Linked DNA regions of Homo sapiens: region 2 is linked to region 1. The links come from fine-mapping of genetic effects on gene expression. A gene starts in region 1. The other region holds a variant in brackets. All regions are shown on one strand. Distances are between the middles of the regions.

Region 1 (5,363 bases):
GTCCCAGATGCTTGGGAGGCTGAGGTGGGAGGATAACTTGAGGGCAGGAGCCTGAGGCTGCAGTGAGCTATGATTACGCCTGTGAATAGCCAGTGCAGTCCAGCCTGGGCAACATCGTGAGACCCCATCTTTAAAACAAAAAAAATCGTGGCTCACGCCTGTAATCCCAGCACTTGGGAGGCCGAGACGGGTGGATCAGGAGGTCAGGAATTCAAGACCAGCCTGGCGAAGATGTTTCTCTACTAAAAATACAAAAAAACTAGCCAGGCATGGTGGCAGGCGCCTGTAATCCCAGCTACGCAGGAGGCTGAGGCAGAGAATTGCTTGAACACGGGAGGCAGAGGTTGGAGTGAGCCGAGATCGCGCCACTGCACTCCAGCCTGGGCAACAGAGCAAGACTTGGTCTCAAAAAAAAAAAAAAACAAAAAACAAAAAACTTCTGTAAAGAAATTTCAGAAGCTTATTTAAAAAAAAGCATTATAAGTTGTCTGATTTGAGAAAATAAAAGAGCCTTTTCTCATGAGAATTATCAAAGACTTCTCACCAACTGAACAATCACTGCTGCGTCACATGCAGACAATTCAACGGAATCAAAAAATACACAGAAGCCTCGCAGACTCACCTGGGATGTGCAGACTTGGGCCTGCTGTCCTACTGCGGCATGGAACCAGGATCTTAACGGAGGGCTGAGTTTGGTTGGGCAGGTGCTACGCGGAGCTCCTGAATGTAAGCGCTCCTGGACTGTGGCCTGTTCAAACACCGAAGCCGCAGAGCGGGCGTCAGAGCCTGTGGGAGGGACAGGGAGACCATCAGTGGAGGCGACTCTTCCTGTGCCTTCTCTTCAGCTACTTCCCAGGGATGCGGCGCGCACCGGGAACCCTCTACCACGAAAAAGCCGTCCAAGGAGCATCCACGCGTGCACTCAGGATGAGGCGGGTGGACCGTACTACCTCATCACCAGTTGTTGTAATGCACACGATATGAACACCTTAACCTTGACCCCAGACAAGCCCAGAGAAGGAAAACCTCCCCAACACCTGCCAGTCAGCTCCAGTCTAATCTTATTTCCAAAGAGTAAGAGGTAATAAATCCCCAAGTTTTGGATTTAATGAACCAGTAAAACTTCAATAACAACAACAACAAACCTCAGGGAGTAATAGGAGTTGCCAAAATTTTGCTTTGCTAAGTGTGGATTTTCTCTTTCATTACCATCTACGATCACTATGATTACATAAAATTAAGGTTCGTAAAAACAGTTTACAGTGAAAACATTCAAACACACAGATGGAGAACCGCACAGGGAGCACATGAGCCCCCCTTATTCAGCCTCAGTAACTACATCTGACCCATCCTGAGTCACTTCCCATCCCCAGGTAATTCTACAGCAAATCTCAGACCTATGACTTCATCCATAAATAAAAGCATACCAACTCCCGAAAAATGTGTAAGGAAATGATCTCAGAATAAAAGCCATCTACAAAGTGAAGACATCCAGTCGTATTAAAAACTCCCCACAATATCACTGCTTTCGGTTAGGACTCACATCTACCCTGGAAGGTGAGAACTCTGTCATGCACAACCAACGCTTGAGAACCACTTAGGGAGGGGATAAACGAACCTTGGGAGATGTAACCCAGTTTCACTCGAGATAAGTAACTTTGAACTTAACCCACTCCTTAATGTAGATGCAGAGATTTTGAACACAATTTTTCAAGTGGGACAGGTCAATCTCTACTTCACCAATTCCACCTAAAACATTAAGCAATAACCTAAACAACGCTCGCTCGCTCTCTGACGTGTAGGAGCCCGAGACAAGTGTTCCTGTAATCACTAGCAATCCCTCCGACGCACACACCATCCACACTCTACCCAACTCAGGAAGGATGCTCTCTCTTGTCCAAGGACAGCACAGGCCTCATCCACATTTCCACCTGCGCGAACCCCAGCCAGCACCATTTAGGCTCATTCCCGCTCCCTCCTCCTTCTAAAGTCACTTTTCCAGGATGAACTGCAACGGACGCTCGCAGGGTCAACCACGTGCTGGGGAGAGGAGCCCACGGAAGCAGCGGCCTCCCGGGGCCCAGCGCCGCGCTCCAGGGGCCTCCCGGGCGACTCCGCAGCGCCTGCCCCGAGCCCGGCCGCGGACACAGCGACCCGAGCACCTCTCCCCGAGCATGGCTCCGTGGCGAGCGTTACGTAAACGGGGGCGCGCGGAGTCTCCCCTCTCGTGTGTCTGGGTTTGGCGGCCGCCACTCCAGCCCCAGGCCCAGGACCCCCACGCCACCCGCCAGAAGCAGCAGCATCGGAACCGCACCCCGCCCCGGGCTCCATGGCCTCCTCCGCAACCACGAGGAAGGTGCCCGCCCCGGGGCCGCACCCGCCCCGCTGAGCTCTGCGGCCGCACGCGACGCCCTCGCCCTGATTCCGACTTCAACCTCTCCGAAGTTGACCTGAATCCTGCACAGACAGCGGGCCCCGGCGACCCCCATCACCGGCCCGGAGCCCGGGGGACGGCGGAGACCGGCGAGGACAGCCCGGCCCCGGACCCTCCTCGGGAATACCCGGGCTCTGGAGAAGCGAGCTCGCGAGCGGGCGGAGCATCCCGGGTCCTCCTCGGGGACGGCCGAAGCCCTGCGCGGACCCGCGCCCACGTTCTCCCTGAGCGTCCCGGCTGCGCCCGCCAGCCCTTCCCGCGCCCCAGGCCTCGCGGAACCCCCCGCCCCGGTCTCGTCCCCAGGCCTGCGCACCGCCCCGACCCGACCCCAGCCTACCCCGGCCTCTCCGCGGGCGCGCCACAAGCCTACGCAGCCCTGGCGACTCCTTCGGCCCGCGGCCCAGCACGCGCACCATCCGGGCCTCCGGCGCCTCACACACGTGTCACCGCGACGCTTAAAGGCGCCGCACCCAGCGTTCGCGCTGCGCTAACTCCGAAAGGGTTGGGAGGCTTTAAGAGGCGGGGCTAGATTCCGCTAACTCCCTGTCCCCGCCCACCGCCGCTTCCGTGTCGCCTACGTCACCTCCCCATCACGGGACCCCGCCAGCCTACGTGATGACGCAAGTGCGCAGAGCCACAGGCGCTCCCGCCCCTGTGCCGCGGCAGGGTGACGTCTCCGCAGCGCACTAGAGGTGCCGCTACTTCCGGGTCGGCCGAGCACACCTGGCGGCGTGGCGGACGCCTGAAGTGTGACAGTGGCGCGCGCCCCCGCCCCAGAACGGGGACTCGAGGGACTTTGCCCACCCCTGCAACAGCCCTCCCGCGCTGTCTCCCGGGCAGGGAGAAGGCTGGGCTCCCCCACCTGCCCCTGGCCGTCAGGTGGCTGTGGAGAAGCGGAGGCGCGGGCGCTCGGCCTTAACGTCCCGGGCTCTGGGGCCATCCGTGACTCCCACACGCGGAGCACCTGCAGTTTGGGGAGGGAGGGATCTGGGAGCGATCGGCCAAAGCCTGGGGCTGCCGAGGAAATGGCTCTTCGGAATTAGGGATCTGAGAGTGTGAGATTTGACCTTTGTAGGCTGGTGGCGGCTGTGCAATCTCTAGCTCCACCCACTCCCTCCAAAAGCTTTGTCCTCTGACAGCTCTGCGAAGGTTTTAGCTGAGTATTTGTGAGCACGTATTTCTTTTGCAGTATTTTTAAAAATCCTCTTGATCTGAGGCAACTTCGCTGGCTTCCTCCCCATTCCCTTGGGCAGGTTGAGAGTGTTGGTTCCTGGCCTGACCTCAGAAACTCAGAGAAGCACAGGATGGGCATAAACTACTTTATCCAAAAGGCAGAACTTTGCAAACACAGTCGTATCTGCTGTGTCTTTTTTGATGTAAGTAGGAATGATGAGTAGGGTGAAGTCACAGGTAAACAACCCAAAACGAATTTCCATGCCCTCCCCACGGATCCTAAAGCAGGGACTGGAGATGGGGAGAGAGGCTAGATGTACTTGGAACAAAATTCACCTTGTATTTATTACCTGGGCGCTGGTGTTTTTTGAAAAAAGCAAACAAGATAACCATATTAGTCTGATGCTGAGACTATGCCCTATCTGTAAGAATCCTTGGGCTGGGCGCGGTGGCTCACCCTTGTAATCCCAACACTTGGAGGCCAAGGTGGGCGGATCACCTGAGGTCAGGAGTTCGAGACCAGCATGGCCAACATGGTGAAACCCCGTCTCTACTAAACATACAAAAATTAGCTGGGTGTGGTGGTGGGCGCCTGTAATCCCAGCTACTCAGGAGGCTGAGGCACGAGAATCCCTTGAACCTAGGAGGCGGAGGTTGCAGCGAGCTGAGATGTCGCCACTGCACTCCAGCCTGGGCGACAGAGCGAGACTCCGTCTCAAAAGAAAAGAAAAGAAAAGAAAAAAAGGCAGGGCACAGTGGCTCACGCCTGTAATCCTAGCACTTTGGGAGGCCGAGGCAGGCAGATCGCTTGAGGTCAGGAATTCCAGACCAGCCTGGCCAACATGGTGAAAACCTGTCTCTACTAAAAATACAAAAATTAGCTGGGTATGGTGGCGCACGCCTGTAATCCGAGCTACTAGGGAGGCTGAGACAGGAGAATCGCTTGTACCTGGGAGGTGGAGGTTGCAATGAGCTGAGATCGTGCCATTGCACTCCAGCAGCCTGGACAACAGAGCAATACTTGGTCTAAAAAAAAAAAAAAGAAAGAAATGCAACGTAGGTCTCTCACGAAATTAGCCCAAATCTTCAGCCATCTTCTACAGGCTGTGAAACCAGGAGAGGAATTGAGTCCATCTTACCTTGACCTCCCAGGCAGGGAGCGGACCAGGTAATTTTTGGGTGACAATACAACTATTCTGTTAATGCACCTTTTTCTTGAGGTAAGTTCTAATGTGATCCGTTTTGGTTACAGCTTTCTATAACAGAATATTTTATTCTTTCATCTTTAATGTTTCTCTAGTTTTCTCTTTTAGGATTTAGAGATCATTCAGTCTCATCTCAAATATTTCAATTTCCATGTGGTTCTTTCATAAACATTTATCCACAGTGAGCCTGCCCTGCATTCTTTGGGTGTGGCTGACAGTTGCAGCCACCCTCAGGTCTGCGGGGGTGGGTGTGTTGCCCCTGAACTGCAATAGCAGAATTTCTCCCTAGCCTGGCAGGGGAGTGCAATCGTGGACTTGCTTTTCCACCCGCTGGGGTTGCATTTCATAGGTGCCGAGTGCCTGGGGGGCCCAGGCCTTTTCACATGAGGGTTTTCAGCCCAGATGTCCCTCCTGCTCTAGGGGAACCCTTCACATCAGTCAGGTGACTTGCTGGACTGGTAGAGCCTCTGCCATCAGCCTCTGATGCAAAACCTTTTCTCAGGTGTCTGTGCGGTCCATGGAGACCCGAGTTCCCAGGTTTGGGAGGGATG
Region 2 (5,363 bases), 35 kb before region 1:
ATGGGAGAGCAGCTGCTTGGAAGTGAGAGGCAGCAGTCAGCTCTGAGCAAATTGGAAGGGGAGCAGGAGCGCACAGACACCCGCCTGCAACATGGAGAAGGTGCCACCCCAGCTGTGACCCAGTGCACGCAGGTCCCTGCAACATTCTTCCCCCCACACGCATTAGCGGACGCTCCACACGCAGCCACGGAGACAGTAGAGGGAAAACCAGTCGCGTTTCCCATCCTAACTGAGCCAAGCCTGTTGACGCCAATGTGCAGGCTACTGTGACCTGATGAAACGGCAGATCCTGGCCTGGCCCGGGACACCTGATCCAGCATCCTTGAACGGCCCTGCACATACAATGATGGACACTACTGTCCACACCACTGTCGCTTCAAGGATCAATCCACTGGTATTTATCAGAGGAGATATTTTTTCTTTTTTCTTTTTTTTTAGACAGGGTTTAGCTGTCACCCAGGCTGTAGTGCAGTGACGCGATCTCAGCTCACTGCAACCTCCACCTCCTGGGCTCAAACCATCCTCCCACCTCAGCCTCCTGAGTAGCTGGGACTATAGGTGCATGCCACCATGCCCAACCAATTTTTGTTTTTGGTAGAGAAAGGGCTTTTCCATATTGCCTAGGCTGGTCTCAAACTCCTGGGTTGAAGTGATCCACCCGCCTCAGCCTCCCAAAGTGCTAGGATTACAGGTGTGAGCCACCACACCCAGCCAGAGGAGACATCTGATCACAAATCCACATTTTAGAAAACCACGCAAGCAGACTACGTTTCCAGACCATACCTACTTGGGGGTAGATTCTGTGGTTTTGCTTTGTTTCTCGTCAGAGGTAGACAGATGCCACTTTGCTCCTGCCCTTACCTGTGCCGAAGTGGGTCCTGGTGCAGGCCGCCTTCTTCACCAAGACCTTCTGCTCCTTTCCTCCTCCGCTTCCTGCTGCTCGCGTGGTGGCCGTCCGTAACACATCCCACCTGCTGGCCATTCACCTGTGGCTGTGTGCCATCTTCCTGCCGTCTGACAGCGGGCAGCTGTGCCTGGCCCTCCCTCCTGTACATGGGGCTCCCAGGCTGTCTCTGTGTCTGCCCCTCCTGCAGGGCGCTGGCAGCTGTGTCCTCCGGGCGCTTCTTCTTCTTCCTCTTCCTCTTCCCGTGGGGAGCCGCAGTGGCCTCCCTGATGTGCTGTGGGAGGCGCGTCTCTGAGCCCAGCCTCTGCGGCTCTCCCACAAAGGTCTTTTTCCTCTTCTCAGAGGGGCTCTGGGGGGGCTCACTGGCCTCTGGCAACTGGTGTGGAAGAGACACAAGGTCCTCGTTGACCTGAGGCAGCGCCGTCGAGATGGAGGAGCAGCTCCGTGGTTCTGACGTCCCTGGGGGCTTGGGGGTACTGGACAGCAATGTGGGGTGGGGGCTGAAGGGGGGTTGCAGGCGGCTGGATGATTGGGGAGCAGGTGACACAGCCCTGTGGGGACAGCCAGGAAACAGGGAGAGGATGTTCTGAAAGACCCAGCAGAGCTGTTCCTTCTGTCTACCCTCACTCCCCTCCCTTTCACCTAAAAATCTGAAAAGGCTTTTACCCTGTAGTTTTCAGATACACATTAAGTTACATGTATGTTTGAAAGAAAGCTAACAATTAATTCAACATCTATTTAAATGCAAAGTTGGCCAGGTACAGTGGCTCATGCCTATAATTCCAGCACTTTGGGAAGCCAAGGTGGCTGGATCACCTGAGGTCAGAAGTTTGAGACCAGCCTAGCCAACATGGTGAAACCCCATCTCTACTAAAAATACAAAATTAGCCGGGCGTGGTGGCACACGCCTGTAATCTCAGCTAGTCAGGAGACTGAGGCAGGAGAATCGCTTGAACCTGGGAGGTGGAGGTTGCAGTGAGCCGAATCGCGCCACTGCACTCCAGCCTGGGCGACAAAGCAAGACTCCGTCTCAAAAAAAAAAAAAACCAAAAAAACAAAAACAAAAA[CA/C]AAAAAAAAAAAACAAAGTTACCTAGGTGGTGGGTTGATAGGTGCAGCAAACCACCATGGCACCTCTGTAACAAACCTTTACATCCTGCACATGTACCCTGGAACTTAAAATAACTGATCCCTGAGATTTAAAAAAAAAAAAAAAAAAAAAAAAAAAAGCAAGCCAACACGTGATTTTAAAAGTCAAAAAAAAAATTTTTTTTTTTTTAAAAGGCAAAGTTAATAAGAATTGTTCCATGCCTTAGTTTCTTGTCACCAAGCAATTCAAGTATTTTTGCGAGCTCTAATGTAAAAACATCTTTAATACAAATGTGTTAAGGGAGGAAACCTTCACGAAACAATAAATGGTAAGGAAAAAAAAGATCCCGTGAGGATTTATTTTCCAACCTCCGAAAGTCTCAGGGTGTTCCCGGGCAGGAAATGAGCCTCATAAGGAAAGCAAGTGTTGAGCTGGCCTAATGACACCTCCACATTACCGTCATTAGGACGCTGAAACCGGGACACAGATGCGTAGAGCAGAATCATGAGCAAGGCGTGTCCGGGACAGGATCTAGTGCCGAACCCAGTGAGGCTCCCTCTTGCCAGCTATGTGTCTCTAGGAAAATTAACTTCCCACTCTGAACCACCATGTTCTCATTTGTCAATGAGCTGGGACCACAAAGCCCACCTCCCAGGGTTCCTGCAGAAAACAGGACCCCCGTCATCATCTAAACAAACTATAAGGGCCATGCCAGCTGCACGATGTTTGATTACTCTAAGTGTCTTCTGGAATCTTTTCCAAAAAAGCTTATAAGGCAAGAAACGAAAAACACCCAAACACTTAAGGCCCTCCCACGTACACAAATCTTATGCTAGGTATAGGGCAGAGGTGTGCTTGTGTGTGTATATGTGAGAGGAGAGTAAGGCAGAGGCTGTGGGCGACGCACAGTCATACCTCGCCCTCATGTAGCACTGGAGATTCTAGAACTAGAACCCAGCGCCGAGGCCACCAGTACAGTCCCCGCAGGCCGCCTCATGACTCACCCCATCTTTCACTGCTTCCGTCCCCACTCCCAGCGGCTTCCAGACAGCCATTTACCAGTTACTCTCAACTTCCTGCCACTCGAGGCACCTAAGAGACGCAGGCAGCCCCTGCGGACCAGGGCCCACATGCACAGGGAAGGGGCTGCATCTCTGGCAGGTGTCTGCAGAGGAACCCGAGAGCCCTGAGACAGTTCTTAACCTGCATGACGCTAGCAGGCAAGACGTCCCACAAAAAACGCTCGGGACTCCGAGCTCACTCAAGCCTCTCGCCAAGGCCTCACTTCGCCTTTCTCTTCGACTGGGAAGTACTGTCATGGGGCTGGTAGGGATACAGGACAGGTCAGTCCCCAGCACACCACATCACCACAAGGATGTCGCAGACAGACCACCAACAAAGACAGAACTAAGACATCAGGACTGCAGAGGCCGAACTGCCTTCACCACCCAAAGCTCCTTTACCACAGGGGAACACAGAAGAGGGGGATCTTGGTCAGTGACGCCCCCCTGTACCTCCTGGCTGCCCCAATGCTTTGTCTGTCCTGTGAGGTTGGCGATTCGTCCAACTCCTCACCAGCCAAGCACACGCAACCACAGGGAGAACCAGTTGGCACCCAGAAGATCCCGGCCCAAAGCTTACCTGGCTCTATGGACGGGCCAAGTGGAGGCAACGACGGGGTGAGAGGTTTTCATGGGGTGGGTGAGGTCGGAGGATGGTGAGGGGGGAGGTGGACGGAGGTCATTGCCGGTCGCCCTCCACAGGGTGCTGGCCTGCAGTTATCGACATAAATAAAAACTTGGTGGTCTAAAAAAGGTTTCCGTGAGTGAAGAGGGAAAACAAAAGTAACAAAAAATGAAAATAAAAACAAAAGAGCCCAGAAAAAAAGATGAGGAGACAGAAGAAGACAAAAAGGGGAGGTGAGGGGCAGGGGAATGGTAGAAGAAGAACCAGAAAAGTATTTTTGGTTAGAAACAAAAAAAAGGAAGAAAATTTAAACAAAAATCTCAGCACAACAATCACATCCACGTGCCGTGGCTGCCCAAGCTTCCTGCTGCAGAGGTGCCGGGCACCCCACTGGGGCTCTGCGCTTCCTGCCCGCCCCACCCCTGCTAGGGACACGTGCTGGTGGGGCCCACCCTCCCTCGGGTTCAGTCAGGATCTTCCACCTACTGTGAAAACAGGGAACTGCTACCTTGCCCAAACCTCCATGAGTCACATGAGCATCACCAGATCAGGGCTCTCTCAACACCCCATACTGCCTTCACCCCAAGATAGCCGTTCTTTAATTGCAAATGGCTGGGAACGACTAAAAGACACTTTGTTCCTCTAACATGAGGGAGGCCAAAGCCCCCGGACAATGTTCTCACTCCCTTCAAACCACAACCAAGCAACTCTTGGAGCTCTCCTGATACACAGCAGCGGCGAGACCCCCACACACCCACCTTCTTGGCAGAAAGGGCCAGTTTTTTGGCTGGTGGAGGAGACATGGTGCTTGCAGGCTCAGTGGTGGTGTTGCTCAGGACAGGGGACTTCAGCTTCACCGTCTTAGAATCTGCTCCACTTGGCGGCGTTTTGGAGTGGCCAGCGGTGGAACAGTTCGTTTCCTGAGAATCGCAGAGATGGGCCGCTCCACTCCTGGGGGTCTGGGGGGCCTTGGTGGAGTCGCTGCTGGCCGAGTGCTCTGGGCTGGAGCTGCTGGAGCCCCTCCTGTCGAGGCCAGCGCTCTCGTCGTTCCCCTTCAGCCCATGCCCGTTGGCAGTGGCTGTAGCCAGGAGCTTAGGTGAGGTAGAGAGGACAACATCCCTGCTGTCCCAGGAGCCCTGCCTTTGGCTCCCAGATCTGCTGCTATTCGAGTTGCTGGTCCCAGGCAGCCCCTGAGCAGTTCTGGGGGAAAAGTGCTGTGGAGGAGCTGGCTTCTTCACCTTCTTTCCAGGGTCGTCTAGGATGGTTGGCATGTGTGTGGGTGTCTGGGAGAGTTTGGGGGAAGGGGACCCCGAGGGCAGCTTTGGAGGAATGCAGCCGTTCTGGGACTTCAGGCCCAGGGTGGAGCCATTCCTGGATATGGGCACACCAATCTCTTCAGTGGTGTGCGGCTTCTTCATCGTCCCAGAGTCTTGTCGCTAAGGAGACCAAAGCAGAAAACACAACTGAGGAAGCGAGAAGTCTCAGCTGGGCCACATCTTCTTAAGGCCACAGTGAATCTTAGTAGCAGGCATGGCCTCTGATTAGCATGCTCAAGATAAATTATTTATCTGGACTCTTGGTAAAGACACTGTGGCTTCTCTGAACAATTCTGGTGTTCTGTGACATCCCAAGAACAGGGACCACAGCCGTGTACCACCACACCTGGCTAATTTCTGTATTTTTGAC

Evidence for each region.
Region 2: its variant is fine-mapped to the expression of USP36 in monocytes (Fairfax 2014, PIP 0.95).

The regions. Positions count from the first base shown.
Region 1 is chr17:78,837,965-78,843,327 of GRCh38, forward strand. USP36 (ubiquitin specific peptidase 36) reads right to left here and starts at 2,850. Exons shown (of 21, transcript NM_001385174.1): 1 at 2,772-2,850; 2 at 623-786. It overlaps LOC124904067 (a long non-coding RNA gene), which reads left to right and starts at 3,150. Exons shown (of 2, transcript XR_007065923.1): 1 at 3,150-5,363. RefSeq lists enhancers at 304-818, 819-1,333, 2,928-3,117 and silencers at 2,258-2,777, 3,238-3,337.
Region 2 is chr17:78,802,524-78,807,886 of GRCh38, forward strand. USP36 (ubiquitin specific peptidase 36) reads right to left here. Exons shown (of 21, transcript NM_001385174.1): 14 at 4,436-5,113; 15 at 3,633-3,763; 16 at 862-1,455; 17 at 1-12. Among named protein-coding and RNA genes, the nearest start is that of CYTH1, 23 kb to the left of the region's middle. The variant CA/C (reference allele first, on the strand shown) is at 1,972.